Homo sapiens: one gene and its partners. Each later gene encodes a partner of the first gene's protein in a complex. Each region holds a gene or a part of one and is shown in the gene's direction. Other genes may lie near its edges. The genes, in order: MED21, MED25 and MED18.

Region 1 (3,747 bases):
CTGGTGAACTGGAAAACAACAAGAAGACTATTGTAATAATTCTGGTGTGAGATAATTGGTTGAACTAAGCAACAGTGATAGAAGGAAAAGAGAAAGATTTGTAGTATTAGCAGAATATGAAGATCAAAGGAAAGTAAGAATCTGAAGTTAGATTGGTTGACTAGGAGACTTTCAATACAAATTAAATATTAAAAAGAGGAAACAGTTGCCTTTGAGTTCTGTCATTGAAACAATGGCAGAGAAACCCAGTGGAAATACTTATTAGAAATAGGAGGTTTGAGAGGTCAAGACTAGGTGAGAGAAATTGGTAGGGAAGATAGGTGTATTTAATTTGGAGATGGTAAGGAATTGCTATTCCCAATCTTTAAAAGTACTTAAGGAATACTTTTAGAGTACAAGAGTTTACAAATTGAGTCTTGAACAAATACATTTCTGCTTACTTAAGGTGCTTTTCTGAGCAGCCTCTTCCTCACTATTTCTTTACACTTGTAACTACTCCAGTCTCAGAAAAGGAATCATATACTTTGTGCATGAGAAATAAATTTTTATTAAACATGGTGCCATAGATATTTACAAGTCAAATTTGCTCTTTTCCATCACTATCCCCAAAAAGTCTTTACTTGTGGCTTACAATAAGTATTGGCCAATATTCTCTTATCATTTTACTATCACAAGAAAAGAAAGATTATTTTGTATTTCAACTGTTTCAACTAGATTTATATCAAATTTAACTTTACCTAGATTGATACCAAACTTAGTTTCTTTGCAGAATTAAAACGTTTAATCAACATTAATAATAACTGGCTTATTTTATCAACAATCACTCCTTTCTGTTTTATTCCCTTGCTCAGAGATTATCATTACAGAAACTTATTGTTGTTGCCATTACCAATAAAGTCCTTAAAACTGATAAGTCCTTTCTAACCTTGATATGTTTTCTTTGGCCTAAGCTTGCAGATCAGTTTTGTAATGCCATTGGAGTATTGCAGCAATGTGGTCCTCCTGCCTCTTTCAATAATATTCAGACAGCAATTAACAAAGACCAGCCAGCTAACCCTACAGAAGGTAAACAGGTTTTCTTAGCTTCTCTTAGTTTGACTCTCACATTTTTTGTAATCCTTTAAAATTAGATTTCTTGAGAAATTCAGCTTATTTTATTTCTAAAATTATTGTTGTTTGAGAATATTACAAGTTTTGTTTGTTGTAAAAAATTTACAGTCAATTCACCTAACATCTCATAATTCTGGTTCATGTCAGATAATAGATTGTTACTCCTTTAGAGGAGAATTTGTATTAATTTAGCTGAGTGAGGGACCTTAACAAGGAAGGCATCCCATTTATAAATTTCTTTATTCAGGTGACCACTATATTGTCATAATAAATGAAATTACATACATTATGCTTAATTCCCAATTTGAGCTAAATGTGTAACAGGATTGGTGTATATTTTAATCATTAGAATCTTCTTTTTTTTTTTGAGACGGAGTCTCGCTCTGTCACCTAGGCTGGAGTGCAGTGATGCAATCTTGGCTCACTGCAACTTTCGCCTCCCGGGTTCAAGGAATTCTCCTGCCTCAGCCTCCTGAGTAGCTGGGATTACAGGCTCATGCCACCACGTCTGGCTAATTTTTGTATTTTTAGTAGAGATGGGGTTTCACCATGTTGGTCAGGCTGGTCTCAAACTCCTGACCTCGTGATCCGCCTGCCTTGGCCTCCCAAAGTGCTGGGATTACAGGCGTGAGCCACCACGCCTGGCCGAATCATTAGAATCTTAGGGCAGAAAAAGCTATATGAAGTTTCTGGTTTCATTAACTTAAAATTTGTTTCTGAAAACTTGAGGTTTTCTAATATCCTAATCTAGCAGTATCTTTCTCTAGAGTATGCCCAGCTTTTTGCAGCACTGATTGCACGAACAGCAAAAGACATTGATGTTTTGATAGATTCCTTACCCAGTGAAGAATCTACAGCTGCTTTACAGGTAAGCCTCTATTCCTTTGAGAATTTTACCAGTAATAGAGAATTTTGAATTAAAGGAGGTAGATTTAGTACCTTTTGTCTGTGTCCATTTGTGCTGCTATAACAACATACCTGAGACAGTAATTTATAAAGAACAGAAATTTATTTTCTCACAGTTCTGGAGTCTGGGAAGTCCAAGATCAAGGCATTTATTACTCACTGTGCATGAGTAATGAATTTTTATTAAACATGGTGCCATGTTTAGGGCCATGTTGAGGGCCTTCTTCCTGTTTCCTCACATGGCTGAAGGCAGAAGGGCAAAAGAGCAAGAGCTCCCTCTTCAACCTCAAGCCATATTTTAAGGGTACTAATTCCATCTATGAGATCTCTGCCTTCATGACTTAATATCCTCTTAAAGGCCCCTTCCCTCTTAATACCATCACATTGGGGATTAGATTTTAATGTATGAATTTTGGAGGGGATGCATTCAAATCATAGCACCTTTTGTTATAATATTCAAATTTCCATTATAAGGAAACCTCTTATTTTCCTCAATTTTGTCTCTTTTCCTAGTGAAGAATGAGAGGAGGGTGGCATTCTACAATTGGAGTAGAATAATGGTGTCTAAACGTAATGTGTAAGGGAGTCACTTAAAGATATCTAGAGATCTCTAATTGAAAAGTCATTCTTTTTAATAATTCACATGGGGAAAATTCTTAAAAGTTGTCTGATTTTTAGAATTTCTTTACTGAAAAACATATCACAATGATTGCAAAGTCATCCAGATTTAAAAATAAGTACATCTGTGACAGCTTCTCTTTCTAAACTCTAAAGATTTTAAAATTTGTGTCTTATAAAGGCTGCTAGCTTGTATAAGCTAGAAGAAGAAAACCATGAAGCTGCTACATGTCTGGAGGATGTTGTTTATCGAGGAGACATGCTTCTGGAGAAGATACAAAGCGCACTTGCTGATATTGCACAGTCACAGCTGAAGACAAGAAGTGGTACCCATAGCCAGTCTCTTCCAGACTCATAGCATCAGTGGATACCATGTGGCTGAGAAAAGAACTGTTTGAGTGCCATTAAGAATTCTGCATCAGACTTAGATACAAGCCTTACCAACAATTACAGAAACATTAAACACTATGACACATTACCTTTTTAGCTATTTTTAATAGTCTTCTATTTTCACTCTTGATAAGCTTATAAAATCATGATTGAATCAGCTTTAAAGCATCATACCATCATTTTTTAACTGAGTGAAATTATTAAGGCATGTAATACATTAATGAACATAATATAAGGAAACATATGTAAAATTCTGTTATGACATAATTTATGTCTCCATTTTGTTGTATTGGCCAGTACTTTTACAAATCAAAACATCTCTCAAGCCAAAGGAGAAGACAGTAAGAACAGACATAAGGGACATTTTAGTTTGGGCTAGTGTCCTGCCTCTTAGAGGTGGCATTGTGTAAATCTGAGCTTTGAGCAAGAAAGTTTTGGAAATTGTGTTGCTTTTAAGAAATAGAGTTAGTGTGGCTGGATAAGAAAGTCACATTTATGCAAATGTTTCTTCTGCTAGAACCTCATACCTGTTCTAGTTCATCTCCACGTTTATTTTACCAAGAGATCCTCTGTCAAGAGAATTTCCTGGCTGTTGTGAAAGAATTTTTCTACATCCTGAACTATTTTTCCTATTTCTTTTCACCTTGCTTTTTTTCATCCTTAATTTGCTTGTCATCACAATGAAGTATGTTTTTTGAATCATCAATTCTTTCTCATTCTCCA
Region 2 (3,747 bases), on another chromosome or scaffold:
CCTGTCCTGTCTGGGACTGGTGCTGTGCTAGCACCAGGGATTGGGTAGGGAACTCAGCAGGGTCCCCGTCATCCCAAGGTGCATAGCCCAGGATAGAGTGGGGGACAGCATGGGAGCAGGCTCTTCAAGCATAGCCTGGGGATGGGGATGATGGCAACCCTGGGGGCTGACCGCTCTGCCCCTGCAGGTTCATGGGCGGGGGTGGTGAGAGCTGCAGCCTCATCGCGGAAGGACTCAGCACAGCCTTGCAGCTGTTTGATGACTTCAAGAAGATGCGCGAGCAGATGTGAGTGCCCCCTCCACCCAGGCCGGGCCGGTCTCTCTCTGCCTGGCCTGGAACCACTTTGCCTGTCGAGTGGTTCTACCTCCAGCCTCACCCTGTAGGGCATGGGCTCTGTGTCCCCAAGCACGCTGAGCCAGGAGGCTGCAGGTGTGTCCTTGGGGGACGCCTGGCCAGTGCCCGGTCTCAGCATCCCCATCAGGAAGCAGTGCCAACTCTGGGTGTCACTCCTGCCTGCCCTGCCTGCTGGGTGACGTAGAGCACATCCCAGAACCTCTTGGAGCCTCAGTGTTCTCAGCTGTAAAGTAGGGGCGTTGCTTCTGATTCCATGTGAGGCGGAATATGTGCATCTCCGCTGGTGCTGGGTCTGGGTTCCTTCTCAGGGCCTCTGTTGCTGCTGGCTCCATGTCTTCTCTCTTTCCTGGTAGTGGCCAGACGCACCGGGTCTGCCTCCTCATCTGCAACTCACCCCCATACTTGTTGCCTGCTGTTGAGAGCACCACGTACTCTGGATGCACAACTGAGAATCTTGTGCAGCAGATTGGGGAGGTGAGGACTCCAGGGTCTGAGGGACGAGGGTCTGGGGGCCCGGAGTCTTGGGTCTGAGGCAGGAGGCACTGAGGGCCTGGACTCCTGGGTCTGAGGGAGGAGGCACTGGGGGCCTGGACTCTTGGGTCTAAGCGGGGAGGCACTGGGGGCCTGGACTCAGACACAGAATAGTCACAGACTGGTGACCAGCTTTGCTTACTCTCTTTTCGAAACAGTCTGGCTCTGTTACCCAGGCTGGAGTGCAGTGGTGTGATCTTGGCCCACTGCAGCCTCTGCCTCCAGGGTTCAAGCAATTCTCATGTTTCAGCCTCCCGAGTAGCTGGGATTATAGACGCCCGCCACCACGCCCAGCTGATTTTTGTATCTTTAGTAGAGATGAGGTTTCACCATGTTGGCCAGACTGCTCTCAAACTCCTGGCCTCATGTGATCTGCCTGACTCGGTCTCACAAAATCCTGGGATTACAGACGTGAGCCTCCACACCTGGCCCACTTAGTCTTACTGACAAAACTAGAACCCAGAGTCTCCCGGGGCAGGTGATACCTGGTTTCAGGGTCTCCTGCCTCAAAGCCCAATGGGAATTGTGGTTGTAGGGCTGGTGCCGTCCAGCCACACAGCAGTTGTGGTAGGTTGGGGGCCGGCCCCAACACCCTTATGGAGGGGGCCCGTCATGACTGCTCGGCCCCTCTCCTACAGCGGGGGATCCACTTCTCCATTGTGTCTCCCCGGAAGCTGCCTGCGCTTCGGCTTCTGTTTGAGAAGGCAGCCCCCCCGGCCTTGCTGGAGCCGCTGCAGCCTCCGACAGATGTGAGCCAGGACCCGAGGCACATGGTGCTGGTTCGGGGACTCGTGCTGCCTGGTGAGGCCTGGGCACCGTGCGCGGGGATGGGGGCTCGACGTGTTTCCCCAGCTCCCTCTGACTTGGATTTTGGATTTCTCTCCTTTCTCTGCATCTTGAATCCCTTCTCTCTGGGGTTGGCCATCCCTCCTGCTCTCAGTTGGGGGTGGCTCAGCCCCAGGCCCCCTCCAGTCAAAGCAGCCAGTCCCCCTGCCTCCCGCCGCACCCTCAGGTGCCACTCTCTCAGCAGCCCCCCAGCAGCCTCTGCCCCCCGTCCCCCCGCAGTACCAGGTATGGATATTTCCGGGAAGGGACATGCTTCTGGGGACTTGCTGGAGCCCTGGCCCCTGGGGAGAAATCTAGTTGCATGTTGGAGCTTGTGGGATGATGGGAGTCCCATGGGACATTGGGAAGGTGGGACTCTTGGGGCCATGGAAGCTCATGTGCTGTGTGATGGGTGTTGTGAGCTAAGCTATCCCAGCTGGTGCCTCATGGGGCCATGGGTGGTGTGACCTCGTGGGATACCAGGACTGGGGGGCCATGGTCCTCACCAGTCCCTTCCCTTCTTCCCTTCTACCCACAGGTTCCCGGGAACCTGAGTGCAGCTCAGGTGGCCGCGCAGAATGCAGTGGAGGCTGCCAAGAACCAGAAGGCTGGGCTGGGCCCTCGCTGTGAGTCCTGGAGTGAGGATGAAGGGCGGGCAGGGGCCAGGCAGGCCTCTCTCCACACACTTGTTCCCCACTTCTTCCCTTGGTCTCTCCCACAGTCTCGCCCATCACCCCTCTCCAACAAGCTGCTCCCGGAGTGGGTCCCCCCTTCAGCCAGGCCCCAGCTCCCCAACTACCCCCAGGACCCCCTGGCGCCCCCAAGCCACCACCTGCTTCCCAGCCCAGTCTGGTCTCCACTGTGGCCCCTGGCTCCGGCCTGGCTCCCACGGCACAGCCCGGGGCACCGTCCATGGTAGGTGCCTGCACGCCTCCTGCCCCTGCTCCTTCCTCCTGCTGTCCACAGCTAGGACAGTTAGAGGATGAGTCATTTGCCTTCCAGGGGGATGTGGCTCTCGTGGTTCTGGGGCTTTGGGGGCTCGTGGTGTGTGTGCTGCAGATGCCTGAGATGAGGGTCTGGGGACAGAGTGGGGAGGCTCATGGCTCCAGGAGGGTCAGGGCTGTTCCGAGAAACCCAAGGAATCCCTGGGTCTGGGAGTCCAGGGCATCGCACAGCTTACGAGTCCTCGAATCCTGCAAGGTCCAAGCATTTGGGGTCCTGCGGCTGGCCAAGTGCTGTTCTGGGGATGGAGGGGCAGAAGAAGGGATCTTTCCTCCTTCCTGGTTTGCCCTCACAGGATGGCCCCCGGAGGCTCCCGGCCTTCCCCATTCTCATGGCCCTCCTTCCTCCCCTCTGGCAGGCAGGCACTGTGGCCCCAGGAGGGGTGAGCGGCCCTTCCCCAGCCCAGCTGGGAGCCCCAGCCCTCGGTGGGCAGCAGTCAGTCTCCAATAAGCTTCTGGCCTGGAGCGGGGTCCTGGAGTGGCAAGAGGTGAGGGGCCTGAGGGTCCATTGGGCACTTGGGACTCCTGGGGCCGTGGGGCTGGGCATGTAGGACTCATGGGGCCAGATGCGTGGGGTCTGCAGTGCTGGGTTTGGAGGCATTCGTTGCGCTGGACCTGTGGGATGCGGGGCGAGGCCAGGAGCCCCATGGAGTGGTGGGACTTGCGGTACAGAGGAGAGTCCCCATGCAAAGAACCCAGAAAAGCCCAGGATTTGGGGCCCAGAGAAGAGCCCAGGCGATGTATCATCTGGGGCACAGTGGATGGTGGGATTTAGGGGCCGGGCACGTAGCTGTAACATTTGAGGAACTGAAGGCTTGCTGGTCTGGAGGAGGGGCCTGGGGCTCATGGGACTTAAACTGGGGAACATCCTGAGCTTTGGGGCTACCAGGGTAGGACATGAGGGCTCAAGGGGACTGAGGCTTATGGCCCTTTTTACTGACATGCTCTTTTTTCCCCCTCAGAAACCCAAACCTGCCTCAGTGGATGCCAACACCAAGCTGACGCGGTCACTGCCCTGCCAGGTCTACGTGAATC
Region 3 (3,747 bases), on another chromosome or scaffold:
GCCATTTGGGTGTCCCACAGACACCTGATGCTCAGTGGGTCTACATATGAACTCATCTTTCCTGTCTCACCCACACTGCTCTGTGTTTCCTAGCTTAGAGAAAAAAAGTGCTACGATAGCCACCCAAGACATCTGTGACTCCTTCATCTCTGTCTTTACCTCTGGTTAGTCATTAAAGAATTATTTTCCATATATATATAGAGGACAGAGTCTTGCTCTGTAGCCCAGGCTGGAGAGCAGTGGTGCAATTTCAGCTCACTACAACCTCTGCCTCCTGGGTTCAAGCAATTTTGGTCTCTTGACCACCTGAGCCACCTGAGTAGCTGGGACTACAGGCGTGTGCCACCACACCCGGCTAATTTCCTCTTTTTACTTTTTTTTTTGAGCCGGAGTCTTGCTCTGTCGCCCAGGCTAAAGTGCAGTGGTGCGATCTCGGCTCACTGCCAGCTCTGTCTCCCAGGTTCACACCATTCTCCTGACTCAGCCTCCCAAGTAGCTGGGACTACAGGCGCCCGCCACTACGCCCAGCTAATTTTCTGTATTTTTAGTAGAGACAGGGTTTCACCGTTAGCCAGGATGGTCTCGATCTCCTGACCTCGTGATCCACCCCCCTCGGCCTCCCAAAGTGCTGGGATTACAGGCGTGAGCCACCGCGCCTGTCCTCTTTTTACATTTTTAAAATCTTTTTCTGACATTTGTTTCTCAGCTGGAGTTGTACCAAAGCGCCTAACTGGTCGTTTTTCTTTAATTTTTTTCCAGACAGGATCTCCCTCTGTTGCACAGGCTGGAGTGCAGTGGCGCTATCTCAGCTCACTGCAACCTCTGCCTCCTGGACTCAAGCAATCCTCCCACCTCAGCCTCCCAAGTAGCTGGGACTGCAGGTGCGAGCCACTACGTTCAGCTAATTTTTTGTATTTTTTGTAGACACAGGGTTTCACCATGTTGTTCAGGCTGGTCTTGAATTCCTGAACTCAAGCCATCTGCCCGCCTTGGCCTCCCAAAGTGCTGGGATTACAGGCCTGAGCCACCGTGTCCGGCCTGGTCTTTTTTCTCTAGGCTCTCTCCTTTCCCAAACTTTTCTCCATGTTGTAGCCAGGGTTCTTTTAAAGCTCACATGTATTCTTTGGTATGGCACTGCAGAGTACTCCTGGATCTGGACCTACTCCTTTTCCAGACTCTTTTTTTTTTTTGAGACAGAGTCTCTCTCTGTAGCCCAGGCTACAATGCAGTGGCGCGATCTCGGTTCGCTGCAACTTCCGCCTCCCGCGTTCAAGCGATTCTCCCACCTCAGCCTCCCTAGTAGCTGGGATTACAGGCGCGCGTCACCATGCCCGGCTAATTTTTGTATTTTTAATGGAGACGGAGTTTTACCATCTTGGCCAGGCTGGTCTCGAACTCCTGACCTCAAGTGATCCGCCTGCCTCGGCCTCCCAAAGTGCTGGGGTTACAGGCGTGAGCCACCGCGCCCAACCCCTCAGTTCTTTTTTCTTTTGAAACCCACTATAATCTCTGTAAGTCCTATCAGTTCCAAGAGACTTTCTACACAAATACATCTCCAGGTTGTCAAACCTAAAAAGATTTTCCTAGAGCATGGCCTATGACGTCAAGGATCCAGGTAGCGCCCGGAGGAAAGCGCCAAAGGAGGCCGCCATCTTTCATACAGCAGCCCGGAATTTTGCGCATGCGCCTCTGATTGTCTGTCCGCAATGAAGCTCTTCGGCCTTCTCGGCACCCATACGTTTGGGAACGGCAGTTTCGAGGTTTGTGAGACGTCGGCTTCCGACCGGAAGTGAGAAGAGGAGGAAGTTGGCTGGTTGCACCGATCTGGGGGCTTCCCGGGCTCGGGTAACCGGAGTGCTGGTATCTAATCGTCGCTCAAAAGCTCCTAGGTGCGCGGGTGGATATAATTCCCGGCTTCTCGAGAAGACACTACAGCCTCAAGGAGGTGTGCTTCTAGTGTTTAATTGGATACGTGTTATGGATGCCGGCTTAGAAGGACCTATATACCATCATCTTAAAATAACTTCCCCTTGGCTCTCTCTCTCTTTTTTTTTTTTTTTTTTTTTTTGAGACGGAGTTTCGCTCTTGTTGCCCAGGCTGGAGTGCAATGGCGCGATCTCGGCTCACCGCAACCTCGCCTTCCGGGTTCAAGCGATTCTCCTGCCTCAGCCTCCTGAGGAGCTGGGATTACAGGCGCTCGCCACCAGGCCTGGCTAATTTTTTGTATTTTTAGTAGAGTCGGGGTTTCTTCATGTTGGTCAGGCTGGTCTCGAACTCCCAACCTCCAGTTGATCCGCCGGCCTCGGCCTCCCAAAGTACTGAGATTACAGGCGTGAGCCACCGCGCCCGGCCTTGGCTCTCTTTAAAAGGCATTTTTAGGCTAGCCGCAGTGTGGTCTCCCGCCTGTAGTAGTCCCAGCTACTCGGCTTGAGCCCAGGAGTTCGAGGTTATAGTGAGCTAGGAACTCCCCACTGCACTGCAGCCTGGGCTACAGAGCGAGATCCTGTCACCAAAAAAGAAAAGCGTACGGGGGAAGGCATTTTCAGAGAGATAGAACGCCTAGATGTTAGTTTGGTCCAAACTCTGCTACCAACTTGCTGTGTGTATCCTTCTGTCCCTCTCCAAGTCTCAATATCCTCATCTATAAAACGAAGGTCCCTTAAGTCACTTTTTCAGTTCTTCTGAATTTTGTTGCCTCTTTATTATCTCGTTTGAGCCACATAGCCTTGGGAGTTAAAAATCACTGGCCTTTGGCCGGGCACGGTGGCTCACACCTGTAATGCCAGCACTTTGGGAGGCCGGATCACCTGAGTATCACCTGAGGCCAGGAGTTCGAGGCCAACCTGGCCAACATGACGAAACCCCGTCTCTACTAAAAATACAAAAAAAATTAGCTGGGCTTGGTTGCGGGCGCCTGTAATCCCAGCTACTCGGGAGGCTGAGACAGGAGAATCGCTTGAACCTGGGAGGCAGAGGCTGCAGTGAACAGAGATTGCGCCATTGCACTCCAGCCTGGGCGACAAGAGTGAAACTCCGTCTCAAAAAAAAAAAAAAAAAAAAATCACTGGCCTCATTTTATAAGGAAGACATTGAGTCCCAGGGTGAGGGGTTATAGATAGGACTTTCTCAAGATTGCACAGGTAATGTGGAGGTTTCAGAACTTGAGACTAGAAGGTAATGCTGTAACTCCATGACCAGATCTCCTTTCTATATTTCTGTGTCATCAGTTCCTGGAACTGGCCATATAAGGAAATACTCAAACGTTTTTGAATGAATGAATCTTTGATTTGAAGGCCAGTGCCACAACAGATCTGGTCTCTCTCCACCACTTTGATGTATAAACAAGTGAACTCTTTTCCAGGTATATCCCGTGCCTTACCTGACTGGGGGCTCTGAGTCCAGTTGTGTTGTCTTCAACTTAGACACCATGGAGGCACCTCCAGTCACCATGATGCCTGTCACTGGGGGCACCATTAACATGATGGAGTACCTGTTGCAGGGTAAGTGAACTAGGGAACTTGGATTACCTGTTTTCCTCTTCTCTGTTCAGCTTCCCTTAAGATGAGAGACTTAACACAAAAGCAGCCTGCACAGTTTCTGGCACCCAGCTATGTTTTTAACTGTTACTTTAAATTATAGTTTTATATGCACTAAACATACTAAATTTGCCATCTTGGCTGGGCATGGTGGCTCACGCGTATAATCCCAGCACTTTGGGAGGCCGAGGTGGGCGGATCACGAGGTCAG

The links.
Region 2: MED21 (region 1) and MED25 share a complex: the UniProt entries of both Homo sapiens proteins name them as parts of the mediator complex.
Region 3: MED21 (region 1) and MED18 share a complex: the UniProt entries of both Homo sapiens proteins name them as parts of the mediator complex.

The regions. Positions count from the first base shown.
Region 1 is NC_000012.12:27,025,470-27,029,216, forward strand, and holds part of MED21 (mediator of RNA polymerase II transcription subunit 21), read left to right. Parts: intron 1-950; coding exon 951-1,065; intron 1,066-1,877; coding exon 1,878-1,978; intron 1,979-2,815; coding exon 2,816-2,992; 3' UTR 2,993-3,747. UniProt on the Homo sapiens protein: Component of the Mediator complex, a coactivator involved in the regulated transcription of nearly all RNA polymerase II-dependent genes.
Region 2 is NC_000019.10:49,828,262-49,832,008, forward strand, and holds part of MED25 (mediator of RNA polymerase II transcription subunit 25), read left to right. Parts: intron 1-187; coding exon 188-286; intron 287-708; coding exon 709-829; intron 830-1,524; coding exon 1,525-1,687; intron 1,688-1,826; coding exon 1,827-1,957; intron 1,958-2,249; coding exon 2,250-2,337; intron 2,338-2,432; coding exon 2,433-2,626; intron 2,627-3,071; coding exon 3,072-3,200; intron 3,201-3,674; coding exon 3,675-3,747. UniProt on the Homo sapiens protein: Component of the Mediator complex, a coactivator involved in the regulated transcription of nearly all RNA polymerase II-dependent genes.
Region 3 is NC_000001.11:28,327,236-28,330,982, forward strand, and holds the start of MED18 (mediator of RNA polymerase II transcription subunit 18), read left to right. Parts: upstream 1-1,804; 5' UTR 1,805-1,945; intron 1,946-3,050; exon of another isoform or gene 3,051-3,140; intron 3,141-3,361; 5' UTR 3,362-3,427; coding exon 3,428-3,500; intron 3,501-3,747. UniProt on the Homo sapiens protein: Component of the Mediator complex, a coactivator involved in the regulated transcription of nearly all RNA polymerase II-dependent genes.